Linked DNA regions of Homo sapiens: region 2 is linked to region 1. A link means that fine-mapping ties the variant in region 1 to the expression of a gene that starts in the linked region. Tissue or cell type: sun-exposed skin. Region 1 holds a variant in brackets; the other region holds the start of a gene. All regions are shown on one strand. Distances are from middle to middle.

What was found. PIP is the estimated chance that this variant, and not a neighbour inherited with it, causes the effect.
Region 2: CX3CR1 starts here. The variant in region 1 is fine-mapped to the expression of CX3CR1 in sun-exposed skin (GTEx, PIP above 0.99).

What each region holds. Positions count from the first base shown.
Region 1 is chr3:39,378,824-39,389,252 of GRCh38, reverse strand. SLC25A38 (solute carrier family 25 member 38) reads right to left here and starts at 5,883. Exons shown (of 7, transcript NM_017875.4): 1 at 5,460-5,883. The coding sequence starts at 5,528. LOC105377644 (a long non-coding RNA gene) reads left to right here and starts at 4,928. Exons shown (of 3, transcript XR_007096252.1): 1 at 4,928-5,012; 2 at 6,209-6,300; 3 at 8,133-9,822. LOC105377037 (a long non-coding RNA gene) reads right to left here. Exons shown (of 3, transcript XR_001740661.3): 3 at 8,101-8,326. RefSeq lists enhancers at 4,675-4,744, 5,215-5,264, 5,275-5,374, 5,395-5,574 and a silencer at 4,835-4,984. The variant G/A (reference allele first, on the strand shown) is at 4,987.
Region 2 is chr3:39,273,792-39,284,220 of GRCh38, reverse strand. CX3CR1 (C-X3-C motif chemokine receptor 1) reads left to right here and starts at 4,185. Exons shown (of 2, transcript NM_001337.4): 1 at 4,185-4,267.

The DNA.
Region 1 (10,429 bases):
GCTCAGTGGGAGCAAAACTATTTCCATGCCACTGACCACTCTTCCCTATTTGTTCTGACTCAAAAAGTTACTGGTCATCTCCCTATCTTTGCAAAAGCAAAGTCAATTGAATGCAGTGCTTTCACTTTGAACTGATGATGTGCAGACTCCCTTCGCTCTAAGACCTATAGGTATTTATAGGACCAAGCCAAAGCAAATGAAACCTTAAGCTCAACCACTGTGTAAAATGTAAGTGCCACTTCCTGTAGAACCTAGTATTTCCTTCATTTAAAACTTTCCCCTTACCATCTCACTGGGCCCTAAGCAGATCACACAGTCCTACAGACCAGTAGCCTCCCCTGGCTTTGCTGCTTCTCCTTCAACCCATGAACCGTCATATACACTGGCTAATCTACAGACACCACCTGGAAGGGTGGAACTCCTTCAAAGACTAAATATACCTCCCTTAGTTCCAGGAGCTGCAGCTTCCAGCACTGGTGCTATCATTACAGGACAGCATCCTTTCTCCAGACCCCTAGAACCCAGTAGTATCACAAATGACTGTGAAAAGGTACTTAAAATCCAACCAGTGACCTTCTTCCCCTTCCCTAAAATAAATAAATAAATAAATAAACAAATAGCTATCTTCTCCAAAAATGTTTGGCAAATTCATCCCCAAAGACCTCTTCCCTTATTAAGTGGCATTTGCACTATTATTTTTTAAATAAATGACACATTGTGGCCCTAAAACATTAAGATGAATATATATAAAGTTTCCATTACACATCACATAACTACTTACCTGGAACTGAAATATTTGTAATCTGCAGTATTTGCTTAACAGAGAAGAGAGTGTATCTCAAATTCCACCAAAGAAGCCAGTTATAACTGGAATTCCTCATAAGACTGTTGGAGGCAGGGGGTGGGGGGAACTAAGGTCATTAAAAACTGGAGTTTACAACCACGATGCAATAACTTCTGAAGTACCAAAGGGTGGTCTGATAAGACAACAGGTAAAACCAAGTAAGGTGTGCGTATTTTAGCAAGTCTGTATCTACATCAACTCCCTCTCCCCAAGAGGTGTCCTGCTCTTCTGCCAACCAATATTCTCATGAGTTCTGTGTTTCTAGTCTCTCCCCAAGACTTTGTGGCATTAATGAGCCCCCCTTCTTCACACACTGGGTCTCTCGCTCCCACTGGCATCTCCTCTTCTGCCAGGCAACAGGCTCCAAAGCATCCATCTTTCCAGCCTGACGCTACACCATCTCCACTTGCTCTGTGCCAGTCCCTCCGCAGGCCCCCCCAGTTTGCTATCCAGCTAAATCTCCTCCACTAACACAGCCTCTGAGGGCTCACCAAGCACCTGCTGCACCCCAGGACCCCGTTCCTGTCCCTGCCCTTATCTTACTTGGCCTCTCTGGTACATGCCATATAGCTGAGTGCCTCTCCTCACAGTTTCTGGTTTCTCTCTCCTTCTCTTCTTTGGCCTGCCCTTCACATAGGACTGCTCCTCTTATCTCCTTTCAGAGTAACCTCACCCATATCCAGGCTTCACACACATGCTGGTAATGCCCACATCTCCAGCCCAGGCTGGCCTCTCCCCAGACTCTGCTAATGTCTCCTTGTCTTCCCTCAAATGGCCCACAGGCATCTCAAATTCAACATGTCCAAAATGGAAACTTGGTCAACAGTTCTCCACACACTTGCCTCTTCTCCAATCCACACTGGGATACTCCAGGAATCCAGGTTGGAAACCTCAGAGACACATAAAACTCACCATGCCTGCTGCTACATGACCAAGTCCCACTGACCAAGCCCTCAATCTTCCCAGTCTGGCCTCCACTGATCCATCCTAATGACCTCTGCAGCAGTCTCCAGCCTCAACTATGCCAACCCACCCTCCACTCTGCTCCCAGAGTAGCACTGGGCGAGGCATCTATAGACACCACCTCAAAATCTCATAGCATCTTATGAGCTAGGTATTTTAAACCCGTTTTACAGATTAAACTGGAGCTCACAGAGGTTACAAATGTGTCCTATGTCACAGGGGTTGAAGCCACTGGCCAGGACTTAAAGTTCATACTCTTTTCACCATACCACCCAGTCTAAAGTGAAAATCCAGGATACTTAGGCCACTCAGTGCATTCCACTATTCACCACCACTCCCTCCTTGAAATGCTCTCTTCCTTTGGCTTCAGAGATTAATACTGTCCTGGGTTTCCTCCCACTTCTCTGGCCTCTCCCTTAAATGAACCATACTCCCATGGCTCTTCATCCACTTCCAAGGGTTCCATTTCCACCCTCCCCTCCACACTCTCAGCCTCTCGCTGGAGCTCAGTCTCACACAGCCACGTACTCAGATGGCCACCTCAGATGATGTTTCCAAACCTGAACTTACCTTTCTCCCACACCTCCGACCAGCTCCTCCTCCAAGGTGCCCCATCCCAGTGAATGCCATGCCATTTCTCTAGCACCCCAGCCAGAAACCTGAGCACCATCCTTGGACTTGGCCTCTCCACACTTGTTCACTCTATCTCCAAAACAGCTCTCAAATCCACCAATCCATTCCAGCTGAGAACCCTGTTATCTCTTGCCTTGGTGACGGCCACCAATTTTTTACCCATTTGTCATCTATATGACCCCTCTAATCCACTCTTTACCCTGAAGCCATAGTCATCTTCTGTTTTATTATTTATTTAGAGACAAGGTCTTGCTCTGATGCCTAGGCTGGAGTGTAGTGGCACAATCATGGCTCACTGCCAACCATGACCTCTCAGGCTCAGGTGATCCTCCCACCTCAGCCTCACGAGTAGCTGGGACCACAGGTGTGTGTCACCGTGCCCAGCTAATTTTTTTGTAGAGACGGGGTTTCGCTATGTTGCACAGGCTGGTCTCAAACTCCTGGACTCAAGCAATCTGCTCACCTCTGCCTCCCAAAGTGTTAGCATTATAGGTGTGGGCCACCATGCCCCGCCTGAGTCATCTTTTAAAACTGCAAATTTGATCATGCTGCTTTCAGAAATAAAACCCTTCAATGAAAGATAATGTTTTGTGAAATTTGAAGTTACTAGCTTAAAAACAAGACCAAAAAAAAAGATGGAATAAAAATACAAGTAATGACAAATGTATTAGGAGCTACAGAGTATCCCACAAATTTGTCATTAATACTAATTGAATTATAATTTTAAAAAACCCAACCAAACCAATACCCTTTAATTGGTTCATATTCCTCTCAGGATAAAGTCCAAACTGCTGGTTGCAGGGCCTTTCATGTATCACAGGGCTCCTGCTAACCGTTTTGGCCTATGTTCTCACCCTCCCACTAACACACTCTGCAGCCATACTGGAGGACTCCGCCTTACTTTCACCTCTGAAAACTCTGACATGTTGTTATGCCCTAGCACCGGTCTTGCTCCCTAACTCCCCCATGTCCAAGTTCAGTGCCTCTCCTTCCGGCTTCTACAGCAACACCTGTCCCCATCTCCCTTATGACTGCGTGTCAAAGACAGAATAGTCACAACTCCTGCCTGTCTTGTTCATGGTGATATCTCAAGAACTGACCTCGGAGCCTGGTGCACAGTAGGTGTTCAGCAGTGACAGCGGAATGAATCTTACCACCTAACAGGAAACCTTATGCTCTCCCTTTGAGCACAATCCCACATGATAGGGCTCGGTGGGCCCTGCATGACTCATCCCAGGATGGGTTAATCTCCCCCACCTCTCTCCAGGCCCCTTGCTCCAGCAAGGCTATAGGAATGACCTGCAGTTAGTTTCTGGGCAGTTATGTTAGGCGCTGCTTCCCCAGTGCTCACACAGGTGCTGTGTGGAATTTGTTTTAAAACAAATTTGCTGCTGTCCTTGACCTTCCCACCCTTGATTGCAGGAAATATCTTCTTAACGTCTTTTATTTCACAGCACAGTGATTAGACATGTTATTGGCTCAAGTTATTGAGCCAATAACTTTTTTAGCTTTGTACTTTTCCCAGTCCATTAGCACAGAGCAGATGTTATTTATACTAGCAGTATAGATCAACTTCTAATAGGCAAAAACAAGACAACAACAACAACAAAAACCATCCCAACAGGTAATACTGAATGGTCTTAAGATTTTTGTCAATGGTGAATGGCACACATCCTTTGCGAGTGAACTTAACTTTTAAAAAGTAGCTCAAGGCCAAGCGCGGTGGCTCACACTTGTAATCCTAGCACTTTAGGAGGCCGAGGCAGACGGATCACTTGAGGTCAGGAGTTCAAGACCAGCCTGGCCAACATGGTGAAACCCTCTCTCTACTAAAAATACAAAAACTAGCCGGGCGTGGTGGCGCACGCCTGTAATCCCAGCAACGTGGGAGACTGAGACAGGAAAAATACTTGAACCCGGGAGTCAGAGGTTGCAGTTGAGCCGAGATCACGCCACTGCACTCCAGCGCGGGCGACAGGGCGAGACTCTGTCTCAAAAAAAAAAAAAAAGAAAAAAGAAAAGAAAGCTCAAAAATATATTCAAGGTAAATAAAAAAGTAGTTTCTTTTTAAGGGGAGAAAGAAGAGGGCATAAACAATAATACGCACACGAAATAAGTAGCACATAAGAGTACAAACTGGATCCACAAGCAATTCCTACTGCCCTGAAAAAACTATCCTAAGTCCAATTCACATCTGGAGGCGAGGGCTGGAGAGCCCTGAAAAAGGTAAGCAGGTTTTCAAAGACGTCAACGTAAAGTCGCCACCGCCGCCGTCTCCGCCTTTAAGGATTAAAAAAAAAAATAAAAGCCGCCCCTACCTCGGGCGCAAGACCTCAGAGGGAGAGCTGCGGCAGCTGCAGTGGCCTCAGGCCTTTAGCGTCTAAAGACTGGTTGCACCCCGACTCCACCTACCGGGCAACCACGCCGCCAGCCCCGCCTCCGCCTCCACCAATAGCGGCCCGGCGGCCCGGGCACGATGACCAATCGAACGCCGGAGGAGGCGTGGCGTCGCTGGGGGACCACGCGCCGTCCCAACAGGCTGGAAG[G/A]GTGCCGCCACGACTGGCCCCTCCAGGTAGGCCGCCGCCCGCGGGCGCACAGCGCTACCCGGCCAGCTCGCTGCGGCATCAACGGCTTCTCAGCGTCAGCGCTATTATCAGGCCTTGTGACCGTCCCAAATCTGCCCGGGTGCCCTTCCACCTGGCAGCCTACTCGCACCTTGTGGGGGCCGCGCGGGCACACTCCCCGGCACGCGTCCAGTCCAGGCCCCGGCAATTCCGCCCTTTACCGGGACATCGGCCCTACAGCGCCTGCCCCCAGGGCTGGCCTGCAGCTCCTGGCCTCTCCTCACTCCCTGCCCCCTTCTCAATTCCCTTAGTCAGACTCCTCTCCCGCCGCATCCTAAATCCTGAGCGCACCCTGGGGCGCGGAAAAGGGTAGCCGAGCCTTAGCAACGCCCCGAATTCTCCGGCCCGAGCCCGCGGTTCGGACCCCTGCCCTTCCTTCCCCGCAGTGCCCTCACCATAAGCGTTTCCACCGTGTCTCCGACATCTTGGGGTTGCAGCAGCGACGGACGTGAGTTCTGAATCATTGGAGATGAGGCCCGCGAGTCCTCTGGGCCCAGGGTGCCGTCGACGGGCGCTTGGGCCCAGCCCTGGAGGCCTTGAAGAAGGCTAGGGGGTGGCGCTAGCCAGGCGACGCGCTTTAAGCCGCGGGCTCTCTGACGTCTGCGCCTATAAGCACGCAGCCGCCGGGGTTCGGATCCTGCTAGTCCAGGGGCTGCGGGCGCGGAACAATCTTGCTGCGGGAATTACGCGCCGCTCTTCACCCGCGCCGCAGACTCCGCGGCTCTGCTCTCCTGCCCATCCTGCCCTGCTGCAGGCTTCAGCACCGTAGGAGATGAGGTTCTGTGTATCCCGGGGTGGAGGAAGCGCCGGAGGAACTCTGTAGAAGGGGAGATTTCGCTTCCGGGTGGGACGCTTGTCACGTGAGGGTGTTCTGAGTGCCACCTGGTGAAAACGCCCAGAACTGAAGGATCCGCGCTTCCTTGCACCCAGAACTTAATGGAGCGTCTGCAGGGAACTTTGCTTTTGCGTGGAACGTCTGAACGTATTTACAATCCAGACCTGGTCTGCCCAGTAAGGCAGCCACTAGCCAACGTGGGCTATTGATTTATTAATTGATACATTAATTTTAATTATATTAAAACAAGCAGTGTGGAATGCTTTCTCCTTAAACAGGCGTTTTTTTGTTTTGTTGTTTTTTTTTCAGGACCATATTTCCCTTTAAATGCTGAAAATTTAGTGTGGAATTGATATGTACTGTATGCATAAACCACACGCTGGATGTCTAAGACTGGTGAGGTAAAATCTCAATAATTTTTATATGTTGAAATGATATTTTGGATATATTGGGTTAGGTGAAATATTAAAATTAACTTCAGGCCGGGGGCAGTGGCCCAGGCCTGTAATCTCAGCACTTTGTGAGGCCTAGTCTGGAGGATTGCTTGAGGGAGCCAAGGAGTTGGAGACCAGCGTGGACGACAAAGCAAGACCCCGTCTCTAAAACAAATAATAATAACTTCATGTGTTTCTTTTTAAATGTGGCTAGTAAAACATTTAAACTTTAACATGTGGCTCCCATTACATTTCTGTAGGACAGCGCTGGTCTAGTTGGTCAAAATTCTGGTTTATTGCTCACCTGGAATCTGTCAATGGCTTTTTTGGTCTCCCAACTTCCCCTTATGCCTGTCTGGCTGATCCATGGAAAAGCATTACTGCTGGGATCCTGACACTCCTGTTGAAAATGCAGTGGCCCTGGTAATAAAGTCCAAGCTTTTCATAGCAACCTTCGCTACTTTCCACCTTCATTCATCACCCAAGAACTAGATCAGAAAGGAAAGTGACTTAGGGAGCAAGATAATATTTTTTCAGGCTTCATTCCTGTGCTTCTGAGGTACATAGAACAGGAAGGAAAGTGGTCCCAGAGGAGGTTATTCCCAGAAAGGATTAAGGAAAGTATAAACATTAAAAAAAAAAAAAAAATTACAGGCCGGGTGCGGTGGCTCACGCCTGTAATCCCAGCACTTTGGGAGGCCGAGGCGAGCCGATCACGAGGTCAGGAGATCGAGACCATCCTGGCTAACATGGTGAAATCCCGTCTCTGCTAAAAATATAGCCGGGTGTGGTGGCAGGCGCCTGTAGTCCCAGCTACTCGGGAGGCTGAAGCAGGAGAATGGCGTGAACCCAGGAAGTGGAGCTTGCAGTGGGCCGAGATCGTGCCACTGCACTGCAGCCTGGGCGACAGAGCGAGACTCCATCTCAAAAAACAAAACGAAACAAAATTACAAACCTGCCTGGTGATTGAATACTTTGCTACCCTTTGTTCTAAGCTGCAAGGCTTATTTTTCTTTGTGCAGTAGTGATGTTGATAACTATGCACTGAAACTTCTTTTTAAAGGAAGACCTAATTCCACCCTGACACCCACCCCCGCTGCACTGATTCCATAAGACAAGAATCCCTACTTTTGAGAAATCATGGGTTGGCGTATTTTAGAGACTGCTCTTGGCCACTCTGGGTGTGGGAACACAGGTGGGATCTAGAGTGAAAGCCGGCCCTCCACTCCCTCACCCTTCCAGGTATGCCTGCTTGGCTGTGGGCTCAGAAGAAATGGGCTGGCTTTCAAGGGTGGCAGCTGGCAGATTTCCCTCCTCTGTATCTGCTCCTGCCATGCTTACTCATAACTCTAAAGCCCACAGGCCCTTCTTTTCCCACATCTCCTCCCCTGGATGTTTGTGGGGATGCAGAGATATATAATGATCATGGGGAAAGAGCATCACCCATTGGCAGATGAGTGGGGGGTTTGGAGCAGTACTTAATGGCAAAGTTGGAGGAGTGAATTTTTTTTTTTAAAAAGAAAACATTGTGACTTTAATTCAAAACAAGGTCATTAGCATAAGGCAAGCCTTAATGGATTTATCTGCAGTCAAGGGAAGGTGATTTGGCTCTTATGACCTAACTTCCCTCAATTACACACTGGTCCCTCAAAGATCCAAAGTGGCCCATGTTTTCTGGATTGTATGATCAGGTTACATGATGTTTTCCCATCCCAAGGATTGTAGACACCCTCTACCCAGGAAGAAATACACATGTATCAGTTTGGATACATGACCTCCTCTTAAAACTTTATTCACAGCAAGTCTTGACATCTGGAGGAGTTTCCACCATCCAAGAAGGAAAAGGCAAAGGTCCACATGGGAAGCTGGAGGTGAATGGGAGAGACAGAGGCTGCTCAGATAGGGGCTTTGGTTTCCTGTCTGCCTGTCAGAGCAGGAGGAGGTGGGCCTTGCAGCACCTTGCATCTGCGTCACTTCATTTGTAAGAAGATGGCTGGAATGGTGAAAAGCACACAGGTAAATCACTGCCCCCACCTCCATGTTTCCAGCAGACCAGCTCAGCAAGATCTTTCTACCTGCCTGGAGCCAGAGCTGCTTCTGGAAATATCTAAATTTTCTCTTCTACTGATGCCAAAACAATGAGGCCAGCCTTTGCCTTTTGGAAACCAATAGGGGATTGAGAGGGGAGATACCATGCATTCTCTCTGCTACAACCTCCCTTACCGCCCATCTTCATCAGTCTCTCTATGCCTACTGGCCTCTCAGGTCTAATGGGCATCTTATGATAGTCTTCGTCCTGTAACTAATGGAGGCTCCTCTCCATCTGAATATCTGCTCCCATCCTAAACATGCACAACCTGAAAGAGAAGCCTTAAGAGTCTCCAAGGGCACTGTCTTCACCAGTGGGGGAAGCCACTCTTTGCCTGATCACAAGAATGGGTGAATACTGCAGAAAAAAAGGGAATTCTAATGGCTTTACCCAGAAACTTCCACAAAGAGGATGGTCCTGTCACTGCTTTTGGCTTCACAAGAAGGAAACACCTTTCTTCCTTCTGTGCCAGTGACTATTGCCTGTAACCTCACCCCTGAGCCAAGGGTGACCAGGCTACGAGAGAACAATGAGTTAGAGCGGCTTACAAGCTGGTATCCGAGGGAGGGGCAGATGGCTCTGTGGGGTGGACTGCGTTCCTGCAGGAGTGGGATCTTCACATTCTACTCCAAGGACCAAGTTGTTAGGGGCAGTGGAAGGGAGAGGAGCCATGGTGCGTGCCCAGGCAGTGTGGTGTTTTGTGTTTTGTCATATGGAAGCCACAAGTCACTCCATCAATATTTTGACAAAGCAGTTCCCCATCTTATGGAAAAAATCAAACTCTTCTTGTTTTCCTGCTTTCTTCACAATGAGGAAACGGGCAACATTTTGGCTAAAAGTTTATAAACATAAGCACATATTTTCTGGTCACAAATCTTCTAGGTCCTGATTGATCTGAATTTCCCACAGGGGTAAGCAGGACCCACTTGTGGTTTTGTGGTTTGCTTATAGCTCTATCCATATGTGGAAGGTTTTTTTTTTTTTTTTTTTGGAGACAGAGTTTCACTCTCGTTGTCCAGGCTGGAGTGCAATGCTGCGATCCCGGCTCACCACAACCTCCGCCTCCTGGGTTCATGCAATTCTCCTGCTTTAGCCTCCTGAGTAGCTGGGATTATAGGCATGCGCCACCACGCCTGGCTAATTTTGCATTTAGCAAAATTAGCAAAATGTTGGTCAGGCTGGTCTCAAACTCCCGACCTCAGGTGATCCGCCCACTTTGGCCTCCCAAAGTGCTGGGATTCCAGGCATGAGCCACCATGCCAGGCCAGCTTTTCTTTATCTTGGACAGAATGACTTCATTTATAAGCAGCATCTTGTGTAACAGTCAGTTTTATGTGTCAACTTGGCTAGGCTATAATACCCAGTTTTCAATTAAACACTAATCCAGGTGTTGCTGTGAAGGTATTTTGTAGATGTGGTTAACCTCTGTAATCAGTTGACTTTAAGTAAAGGAGATTATCTTTCATAATCTGGATGAAAGAAAATCAGGACACATATTTCCCTGACAAATACACCTTGTTTCCCTTCCTTAAAGGGTAGAGGCTATCTCCTGCTTTTTTCTGTGTGTCTTTGAGAGACCACTGAGGCAGAGTAATGCTGTAAAAAGAAAGTGGACTTTGGAATCAGGCATTGATTCTGTATTTGATCCTGGATTTGTCACCTGCTAGCTGTGTATTCACCTCAACTTTCTTGTTTGTTATTTTGAGATAAGTCTTGTGCTATTGCCCAGGCTGGAGTGCAATGGTGTAATCTCAGCTCACTGCAACCGCCGCCTCCCGGGCTCAAGTGATTCTCCTGCCTCAGCCTCCTGAGTAGCTGGGATTACAGGCGCACATCACCACGCCCAGCTAATTTTTGTTTTTTTAGTAGAGATGGAGTTTCACCATGTTGGCCAGGCTGGTCTCAAACTCCTTACCTCAGGTGATTGCCTGCCTCGGCCTCCCAAATTGCTGGGATTACAGATGTGAGCCACTGCGCCTGGCCAGTTTATGGGCCTTAATTAGAGGT
Region 2 (10,429 bases), 110 kb after region 1:
GGGAGTAAATCCTGTCTAAAAACAAACAAACAAAAAAAAAAAACTTAGACAATGGTTTCTCAGCTTTTTTTAATCACTCCCCAACAAGTCCTTTTAGATATTATATTCTTTTGTGTGTGGCGGGGTACATAGCGTGTGTATATGTTTGTAGGTTACATGAAATGCTTTGATACAGGCATGTAACGTGTGATAATCACATCAGAGGAAATGGGGTATGCATCACCTCAAGCATTTATCCTTTGTGTTACACACAATCCAATCATACTCTTTTAGTTATTTGTAAAGGTAAATTAAATTTTTTTTACTATAGTGCCCCTGTTGTGCTTGTAAATACTAGGTCTTATTTATTCTAAGTATTTTTTGTGCCTATTAACCACATTATATATATATATATATATATATATATATATATATATATATATATAATTTTTTTTTTTTTTTGAGATGGAGTCTCGCTCTTTCGCCCAGGCTGGAGTGCAGTGGCGCTATCTCGGCTCACTGCAACCTCCACCTTCCGGTTTCAAGCGATTCTCCTGCCTCAGCCTCCCAAGTAGTTGGGATTACAGGCACCCGCCACCACGCCTGGCTAATTTTTATATTTTTAGTAGAGACAGGGTTTCACCATTTTGGCCAGGCTGGTCTTGAACCCCTGATCTCGTGATCCACCCACGTTGGCCTCCCAAAGTGCTGGAATTACAGGCGTGAGCCACCATGCCTGGCCCACATTACATTCTTACTCACCTCCCCCTACCATGGAATTTTATTCCACAGATATGCTATTGGTTTAGCTACTATATGTATATCTGTGTTTTATACATAAAGCACAAGAACCTTCCAGAACCAATTTTCGCCACCTTGGAAGTAATACCACCTCTACTAAGAATGCACAGCATAGACCATAAAACCTCAATGCTAAGTTCAAATATTGGCCCTACCACACATGAGCTGTGTGGTCTTGTACAAGTTACATAACTTCTCCTCCTTGTCTCAAACTCCTCACATATAAGATGAGGATAATAATAGTACCTGCGGCCACACACAGTGGCTTAAACGTGTAATCCCAGCACTTTGGGAGGCTGCGGCAGAAGGATCACTCAAACTCAGGAGTTCAAGAGCAGCCTGGGTACATGGCGAAACTCTGTCTCTACAAAAAATACAAAAATTAGCTGGGTGTGGTGATGTGTGCCTGTAGTTCCAGCTACTTGGGAGGCTGAGGTGAGAGGATCGTTCGAGCCCAGGAGATCAAGGATGCAGTGAGCTATGATCATGTGGCTGCACTCCAGCCTGGATAACAGAGCCAGACCCTGTCTGAAAGAAACAAAAACAAAAACATTAGCACCTGCATCATAGGGTCACTGGGGGCACTACATGAGTTCATGTACATCGAGGACTTAGGACATTGCCTCAGGCAGACCTAGTGCTGCACAACTGCTTATGTAATTATTCCCAAATTTCTCCAGGGCCCACAGAAGAACATGGAAGTATCTTGGTTTGGCAATTAAGGTGAATCACATTCTCACTCTCCTTTTCTGCATCTCTACCCCACATTCCCACAAAGCTTTATTCACACCAAGTCTCCAGTCCTTGCCTGCATTGTGTGATGGGTGCCTGCAGTGATGGGTGGGGACACCCATCACTGTCCAGGGTGTCCCCACCATCCTCACAGCCTCTCTGTCTGGCCTCCTGCCTTTGAGCCAGCCCACCACACTCTCATTTCTCTGCCCAGCAGAAACCAAACTGTCCTCTGCATTTACTGTCTCAACTGGAAGAGAAATGCAGAATGACAAAGAACTTGTGAACAAGGGTCAGCTCCAACAGAGAGTGAAGCCAAAGGGGCTGGGCAGAAAGAGAGATGAAGACGGGGATCTAAGGAATAAGGCTGTACCAGAGTGAGAGTACGGGGGAGGGGTTGAACAAGAGTTCAGGGAGGAGAGAATTCCCAGCGCTGAGCCAGAGACTCCTTTACAGAGGCCCAAGGAGGCGTGGAGGGAGGGGGAAGGCTGCCAAGGCTCTTTCTGTCTCCATGAGTGTGTCAAGAATGCAAAGCACTAATGCTCTTCACTTGGTCCATCTTGCAGGGTTGAGTTTGCAGTGAGCAACCTTGAAGGATGAGCTGACATCTCGCTCAGGGCCAAATAACCGACTTGCTTACTGCTTGCTATAAAATGGCACGTTACCCAAGGTCAGAGTTCCCTTCCTATAACCTCCCCATCCCTCACACATTCACAGGTATCTATCCAAGCCATGGCATCACTCTGTGGGGCTTGGGGGCAAGGCAACTGACACTGGACGCTGGTTCTCATGCTTGCCAAGCATGAAGCCCTGTGCTGCTAGCAGCTGTGGAACATAGCCGTTAGCTTTAAAAGAGGGTAAAATCACGTCCTGGACAGGACAGCCAGGTGAGTTGGGAAGGGAAGAGAGCCTGCCACGGGCACAGGCATGTTGGGGGAAGTGGAAGTGGTGAGAGCACAGTAGGAAGTGAGAAGGGGCGGGCCGTGCTTACCAGGCCGTGGACTTAAACCAGGATGAGAGAACCCCTGGAGGCGTTTAAGTTGGCAGACTTGGATTTCAGGAAGAGCTCTCTGGCTTCTGGGTGGAGAATGGCCAGTGGGGTAAGTGGTGAGAGGAAAGACAGAGAACGGAGAAGGTTAGATGGGCTTGGGAAATTATCCAGGCCCTGGATGGAGGTAGAGATGTGTGCTCATGAACACGGAGGGGATTACTGATGTGGGGTGGATGAGACTGTCGTCAAGAGTGTGGGACAGGAAGAGAGGGAGAGTCTTGGCCAGATCCAAGAAAGGAGCCCTCAGAAGAGGAGGGGAGTCAGAGGCAAGGAAGGGGCTGAGGCAGCCAGCCCAGCTGAGTGGACCCCAGGAGAGGTATCAAGGGGTGGTGTGGGGTGGGGAGGGGCCAGTGTCAGAAAGTGGATGGGGAGCGGCCTGACTCTGCTTTTGTCCTGTGGCCTTCTGGCCAAAGGCAGGGAAAGGTGGCCAAACACTGAGACCAAGAACAAAGAAAGAAAACTGCTGGTGGACTTCTTCCACCATGAGCAGGCCACCAAGCCCGCAGCACTGCACTGCAGCCCCCAGCTCTGTCCTGGGGTTGGGGGAGGTGAGGAGGGGCAAGGTGGGGAGCACACAGAGCACCCGCTGTCCTCGGAACACCACAGCGACTAGAGGTAAGGGAGCACCGGATGTGGCTGGGATGTGGGCAGCAAGGGGCCAGAGGGGCCTTGAAGGGGTCACAGACCATTTAATGAAGGTGTATTGAAGGCCACCATGGGCCAGGCCCTAGTTAGGGATGGATCAGAATTATATAGCATATGCCAGGGGTCAGGCAGGTAATGAAGTGATCGGAAGGTGATGAGGCAGTGGCAGTTGAGATTCACGTTGCAGTCGCCCCAAGCTGGCCAGGCCAGGGAGCAGAAGCATGGCTGGATGCCGGAGCCCACCAGGCTCCCCACTGCAGGGCAAGAGTGGCAGGGGGAGAGACTGTGAAAGGAGCATAGGCCAGGTCCTGGGTGAAAGCTGTGTCCTCAGCCTTGACTGATGGGTATAGGGAGCCACTAAATGCCTTGGGGCAGAGAGGTGAGGAAAAAAATATTTACCGAGCATCTACAAGGTGCAAGGTACTCACTAGATGCCTTCAGTACCAAAGCTTCTCAAACTTAGTATGCATATCACTCTTCTAAGAATTTCATTAAAATGCAGATTCTAATTCAGCAGATATAGGGCAGGGCTTGAGGTGCTGTCTTTAATAAGCTCCCAGTGCCTGGGACTGCACTTTGAGGAGAAGAGCTGTGTGTGCCCCAGTGTGGTCCAGTGAGTACTCTGGGCTCCCTCTCGTGGGCAGGGAAGCTGAGGGCCCCATGAGCTCTCCCAGCTTCCTGAAGGCTCCCCATTAATGAGAGCTGACTGTGCTGTGCTTTGCTGACTGCAGGGCCTGCTCCCTGCCCCCCACCTCCAGGTTGGGGTAAGTGGCACCTCTCTCCCTCCAGCTCCGCAGTCTTCCCTGAGGTTTAGATCTTCCAGGTTTATAAAGTCAGGCCCTCCTGTTGGCAGCTGGCCTCCACCCTGGAGTATCTGAGCTTGCCTGTGGCAGCATCTAAAGATAGTCTCCCTTACAGGAAACAAGATACTATTGGCTAACTCTGCAAATAAAATGCTCTTAGAGGGAAGGAAAGGGAAATACTCGTCTCTGGTAAAGTCTGAGCAGGACAGGGTGGCTGACTGGCAGATCCAGAGGTTCCCTTGGCAGTCCACGCCAGGTAGGTGCACAGGACTAGTTGGGTACCTGTGGGTGGGGTGGAGCAGTGGACAGCTAATAGGTTAATAATGCCTGTTTGCTTACGTGCAGACAATGGAAACCATTTTCCTGGGGATGTTGTAGCCTAAATATGTCCAAGGGGATGGAAGAGTGGGAGGCAAGGGGTGATCAGATCATTTATAATACACTCAACCTGGTGGAATAGTATTAGAAGCATTAGTAATTACATTTTAGAGACATGGAGAAAAGCTCATGATTTTAAACTAACTGAAAAAAGCATGAAAAATTGCATCTGGATGCTGTTGAGGAATTATTGCTAATTTTTTGAGATGAGAAATTGTATTAAAGTCTTTTTCAAAAAAGAGTCCTTAACTTTTAGAGATGCACACAAGTGTTTATGGGTGAAATTAAATAATTCAGTAGAGACATTAAGTGGGAAATAGAGGAAATATTGACCATGGGTTGCTAATAGTTGAAGCCAGGTGTTGGGTATAAGGAGGTTCTCGCTGCTTTTATTTGAAAAGTTGCTTTTTATTTGAAAATTTAATAATAAAGAGTTTTTAAATTTGTATCTGTATTTTAATATAAATATAAATGCACTTAATATAAATATAAAATATGTATAACATTTAGATAGAGAAAAGCTAAAAGATTACTGTGGTTGATTCTAGGAAACTGCATTGCAGATAGTTTCATGGGTTTTTTTTTCCTTTTTCTTCCACTTTTTGTACCATCTATGGGTTTTTGTTTGTTTTTTGTTTTTTGGGTTTTCTTTCTTGTTTGTGTTTTGTTTTTTGAGACGGAGTTTTGCTCTTGTTGCCTAAGCTGGAGTGCAATGGCACAGTCTCGGCTCACTGCAACCTCTGCCTCCTGGGTTCAAGTGATTCTCCTGCCTCAGCCTCCCAAGTAGCTGGGATTATAGGCATGTACCACCGCCCGGCTAATTTTGTATTTTTAGTAGAGGCGGGGTTTCTCCATTAATAAATTCCTGGCACAAATTTAGTGTTCAATTTTGATATATGTTGTTATAACCATTGTGAGGATACTCAGGCTCAGGTTTGTGTGGGTGGAAAACATGGTCTTCAGAAAGAAATTATGAGTGCAAGACAGGAGGAAATCCATCAGAGGCCCCAGCTGAGGACTGACCACGGCTTGTTATTTCTCTTGCCTTGCCTCTGGCAATCACAGCCTCACAGAGCCTGCAATCCTTGCTTTGTGAGTTTATAGCTCAGTCCAGAGAATGGCTAAGAAAGTTTAGGATTCTTTCAACACCCACTCCACAAAAAAAAAAAAAAAAAAGAAAAGAAAAAAAAATTAATTTTTGAAATACTTGAGGTAGAAAACTTGAGGCAGAAAAAAATTGAGCCAAAAAAAAAGGAAAATTGAACCACGTGAAAGCAGGCAAGAAAGCTTGCATTGCTCAGGGCATCCCAGGCCCAGAGGGCGCTTTGGAGGGAGCTGGGTTTCCTGAGAGGAGGCAGGGTGGGTGACGGACCTGTGCTGGAGAGCCTTGAGGACCACTGTGGGTTGGGAATGGGGGCAGTGGATTGGGGTTCAAAACCCCTGGGAATGAGAAATGGGCTCAGGAAGGCTAGGGTGGATTCTTTCATCTTCCTCTTTGCTTGGCTTTATTTTCACAAAGGAAGGCAGGGCAGGAAATAGTCTCAGCCCAACTTCAGTGTGGTTCTTCTTAGTGCTCAGGCTTACCTGGCACTTGCCACACCTCTGGGATGGGAGCACCTACTATCCATCAGCCACGTGCCAGTCTCCACAAAGTCTGCTCCTGAACCCTGCTCCTCAGCTGGCCCCACTTCACAGATGGGGACATAGGCAGCTTGGCTTTGGAATGAAGGAATGAAGTCAGGAATGAAGTCCTGGCTCTGCACTTGGTGACTGTGCACTGGGCTTGCTAAGTCTGTTTCCTGCTTTTAAAATGGAGATTGTCCATCAGCCTTTGAAGCCATGTAATGGGTATGTGTCAACTTTCTGCAAGGATTAAAGGCATGGTATAGGAAGTCCCAAACACACTGCCTGACCCATCTTTGATGCTCAAGAAACGATATATGTTGTTGTCATGAGGAAACTGAGCCTCAGAAAGTTTGGATACCTGAAAAACACTGACTACTATTGAATGAGGTTGTGAAGAATCCAGAGCTGTAGGGGCAGGAAAGCAAAGAACGTATTAGAGCTGACCCAGTCAGGACGATCGTCTATCCCCTTCCTCACCCCACCCCATCCCAGGAGGAAGCCTGCCCGGCCCTAGGCAGCTATGGCACAGTGGCAATGTCAGGTATGGTTCTCCCTAGCCAGAGACCCTAGCCTCAAAAAACCTCCTTCTTGGGATCCAGGCATCCAACTGCTCCTCCCCAGCCCCAGCCTCTGACCCAGTATCCTGAGTCCAGAGACGTTTGGAACCAGCACCTGTAATGGAGGAGCTGAACAAGGAGGGGAACTTCTGCTGCTCCACAGCAGGTCACGGTCATAGGAGGGAGTGGAACCAGAATGGCAGAATCCAGATCTTGGCTGCCTTTCCCAAGGACTTGTTCTGATTCCTAGCAGCACAGCCCAGGCATTCCGAGAAGTTGGGCTCTCTGGCATCACTCACTCTGCCCAGAAGAGCCAGGGGAAAGTTGGGGCTTCTAGCTGAACCTTGATCCCACCTGCCCTCTTGAGGGGCTCAGAATCTGCTGGCTGCTTCACAGGTGGGATTCTCACGGCACGCTGGCCACAGCTGATGCTTCGACCCCCTCATCTTGTTTGGCCAAAGTGCAGCTTTTTAGCTTGTGAGTAAGGAAGAAAAGCTGTATCATATGTCTTTAAACATCTTCCTAGACCACCTTTGTTTTCCCCTTAAAGTGTGCTTAAGGAGAAAATGGAAAGTCTCTTTTCAGTGTGTTGTATTTTGTTTATTGCAAAATACAACACACTGAAAGAACAATGTCTGGGTTAGCAAAGTATTAGATTTAATTTCCCACATTACTACCATCCAGGCTGAGAAAGAGAACCCCAGAAGCCTCTCTCATGTCCCTTCCTGACCACAGCCTCTTCCTCTCCCACAAAGAACCACAAGTCTGACTTCTATGGTGATCACTTCCTTGCTTTTCCCTATAGTTTGACTGAATCTAAATATCATCCCTAAACAATATAGCTTAGCTTTGCCTATTTTTGATCTTCATATTTGGATTCATACTTTTTGGTTTGGCTCAAGACTAAACTTTTAAAATGCATCCACGTTGTAGGAGATGTACATGCACAAAAATTTTCACGGCAACATTGTCCAAACTAGCAACAAACTGAAAGCCACCTATGTGTGCATTAGCAGTAGAAATGGCAATAAATCATGGACTAGTCACACAGTGGAATCCTACGCAGCAAGGAGAATTAGCAGTCTACAGCCAAACCAACAGCATGGGTGAGATGCTTCCAGAAATACTGAGATGAATTTAGAGATAAAGGCACAATTGGTCCATATCTACAGGGCACTTAATCCAGTGCATCTCCACTAGACAAAATTTGTATTTCCATGAGCAAGAGTCATTTGCACTGCTATCTGCTATAACCTACGGTGCTGTAAAATTAGCTCAGGCAATAAAAGGGGGAGGTAGCCCCAAAGAGTATGCCAGAAAGGACTCCCAGTAATCTTCAGTGTGTGTCTATTTCAAAGTCTTTCATCATTTTTCCTTGTAGTTACTTAGTGTGGAATTTCAGACCCCTCTCTATGTCCCTCTTCTCCCTTTTCAGCCTTGGCTTTCTCTGCATCCTTCCCCGAAGCCCTGCACTCAGCCTAAACTGACTTTCCTGAACACTCTGGGAGCATGTGGGCTCCTCCCAACTCCACCATCTTCACTGCCTTCTGTTCCTATTTCCCTCTGCCTGGCCTTGGCCCCAGGAAACCTTCCTATGCTCAGACCCTCTGTGCCTTTGTCTTCAAAGCCCACCCACTATTCACTGCCACCTCCATCTTGGTCAACCTGGAAGACTTTCCCCATCCTTAAAACATCAGCTCAAACGGCAGATTTTTTTTTTTTTTTTTGTGATATCCTCTTGATCACCCTCCCCCAGTTTTTAAGGAGACAGATATAGAGGTTCAATCCTTGGGCTTCCCATGACTTTTCTTATATTCTGTTACTGAGCAATAATAAACACTTCTAGGAACTGTATCTTAAACACTTTTGCCTCTACAGAATCTAGCACAGTGCCTAGTATTGGTGAAATATAATTAACAAAGTCTTCTTTCAACACAGAGATTCTCTCCACAAAAGGAGTAGAGAAAGAACAGTTTTATTATGGAATAAGCAGTAAACCAAAATATGCAGAGCATTATAGGCCATCTACTAAGAGGTTGCAAGAACAGAAAGAAATCTCCCCCTTTTGTATAGCCAAGTAGATACAACCTGTTACATACATGTTATCAAGGCAAACAATAACTGTTCCTCAAGTAAGAGGTCTTGCCAGCACCGTTTGCCGTACATGGTTCACTCTAAATTTACCTGGTAATTAGGGTAACCACTTGTGTTAGCTAACTGGCTCTACCCAGAGGAAAATCAAATTTATCTTTAAGACAAGGGGTAATTTTGCAGCACTGAGCAAGGCTCTTCAGTTAGGCTCATACCTTCCCACAGAAACTAAGAGATAGAAGCACTATCTCCCTTAGGTTTGTTTACATTTCAAAGAGATGACGCCCAGGTCCTTGGGAAAGACTAGCTTAGCTCATAAAGCTGACAAAAAGCCTATCTAGTTTCAAAAGGATTTACACATGTTCAAAGAGAGGAGAAAGTATGTAAAAGTTTTCTAGGTGGGCACGGTGGCTCACACCTGTATTCCCAGCACTTTGAGAGGCTGAGGCGGGTGGATCACCTGAAGTCAGGAATTTGAGATCAGCCTGGCCAACATGGTGAAACCTTGTCTCTACTAAAAATACAAAAATTAGCTGGGCATGGTGGTGGGCGCCTGTAATCCCAGCTACTTGGGAGGCTGAGGCAGGAGAATCACTTGAACCCAGGAGGTGGAGGTGGCAGTGAGCCAAGATGGCACCATTGCACTCCAGCCTGGGCGATGAGAGTGAAACTCCATGTCAAAAAAAAAAAAAGTTTTCTAAAGTAAATGCTCTGAGAAAAAAACAGAAGGTGAGGAGATCTCTGTCCTTATTTTTAACAAGAATAATTAAATGTTTTTATTTTTAATTTCTACTTAGACTAGAATATGGTACAGATGCTCAAAAATATTGACTTAATTAATAATTAAACAATTAACAAGTCTATCTCTTTCCTAATTATTAAAAAAATTATGAAGTATTTCCCTTCAAAATTTCACAGTTTACTTTGACATAAATAAATAAATACCATAAAGTATTTTGAAGAGGAAAGGGAAGGGTGGGGCTTCAAACACAAAATAATGGCAGGTTTTGTAAAGGGGCAATTCACTAAACCCAATAGGATTCTCCTGTTGCTATTTTTTTTTTTTTTTTTTTTTTGGTGGTGGTTGGAGGGAAGGGTTGGGTGTGCATTTGGCCTGTGTGAAAAACTGGTGGGTAGACAATGCCATGCTGTTCTAGATGGGCTCATTGCTATAGGAATAGATAGTCACTGAATTTACTTGCATAGGGGATGGGGTATAAAATGTTTCCTTATAGCTCCTTAACATGGAATTCAGCACCCCTCTCCCCATCAGCCTTAGCTCTCTCTGAATCCCAAGGGATATGTGTTATAAAAATAGCTGCCATCATAAATGAGAAAACCATCAGGACCTGGTAAAACTTGGCTTCCCAAACAGTCAGGGGTCTGGGCATGGCAGCCGACTGAGAACCTTTCTATCTAGTACAAGGTAAACAAGATTTGCCAAGACTTGATCAACTGATCCAGCTCCCTATCTCCAAACAGAACCTCATCTGAATGCTCACAGGCTGTGCCCCAGAAGTGTAGAAGTGTCATGTTCCCTGGGCAGGCTGCTGGGCAGCCTCTCTGTTGACAATAGACCACACTTTTGCTGACCTAGGACTCATGTTGCTCTTTAAGACTGCTTCCTTGGCCAGGCATGATGGCTCACACCTGTAATCCTGGCACTTTGAGAGGCCCAGGCAGGAGGATCTCTTGAGGCCAGATGTTCAAGACCAGCCTGGTCAACATAGTAAGACCCCATATCTACCAAAAATAGCTGGGCATGG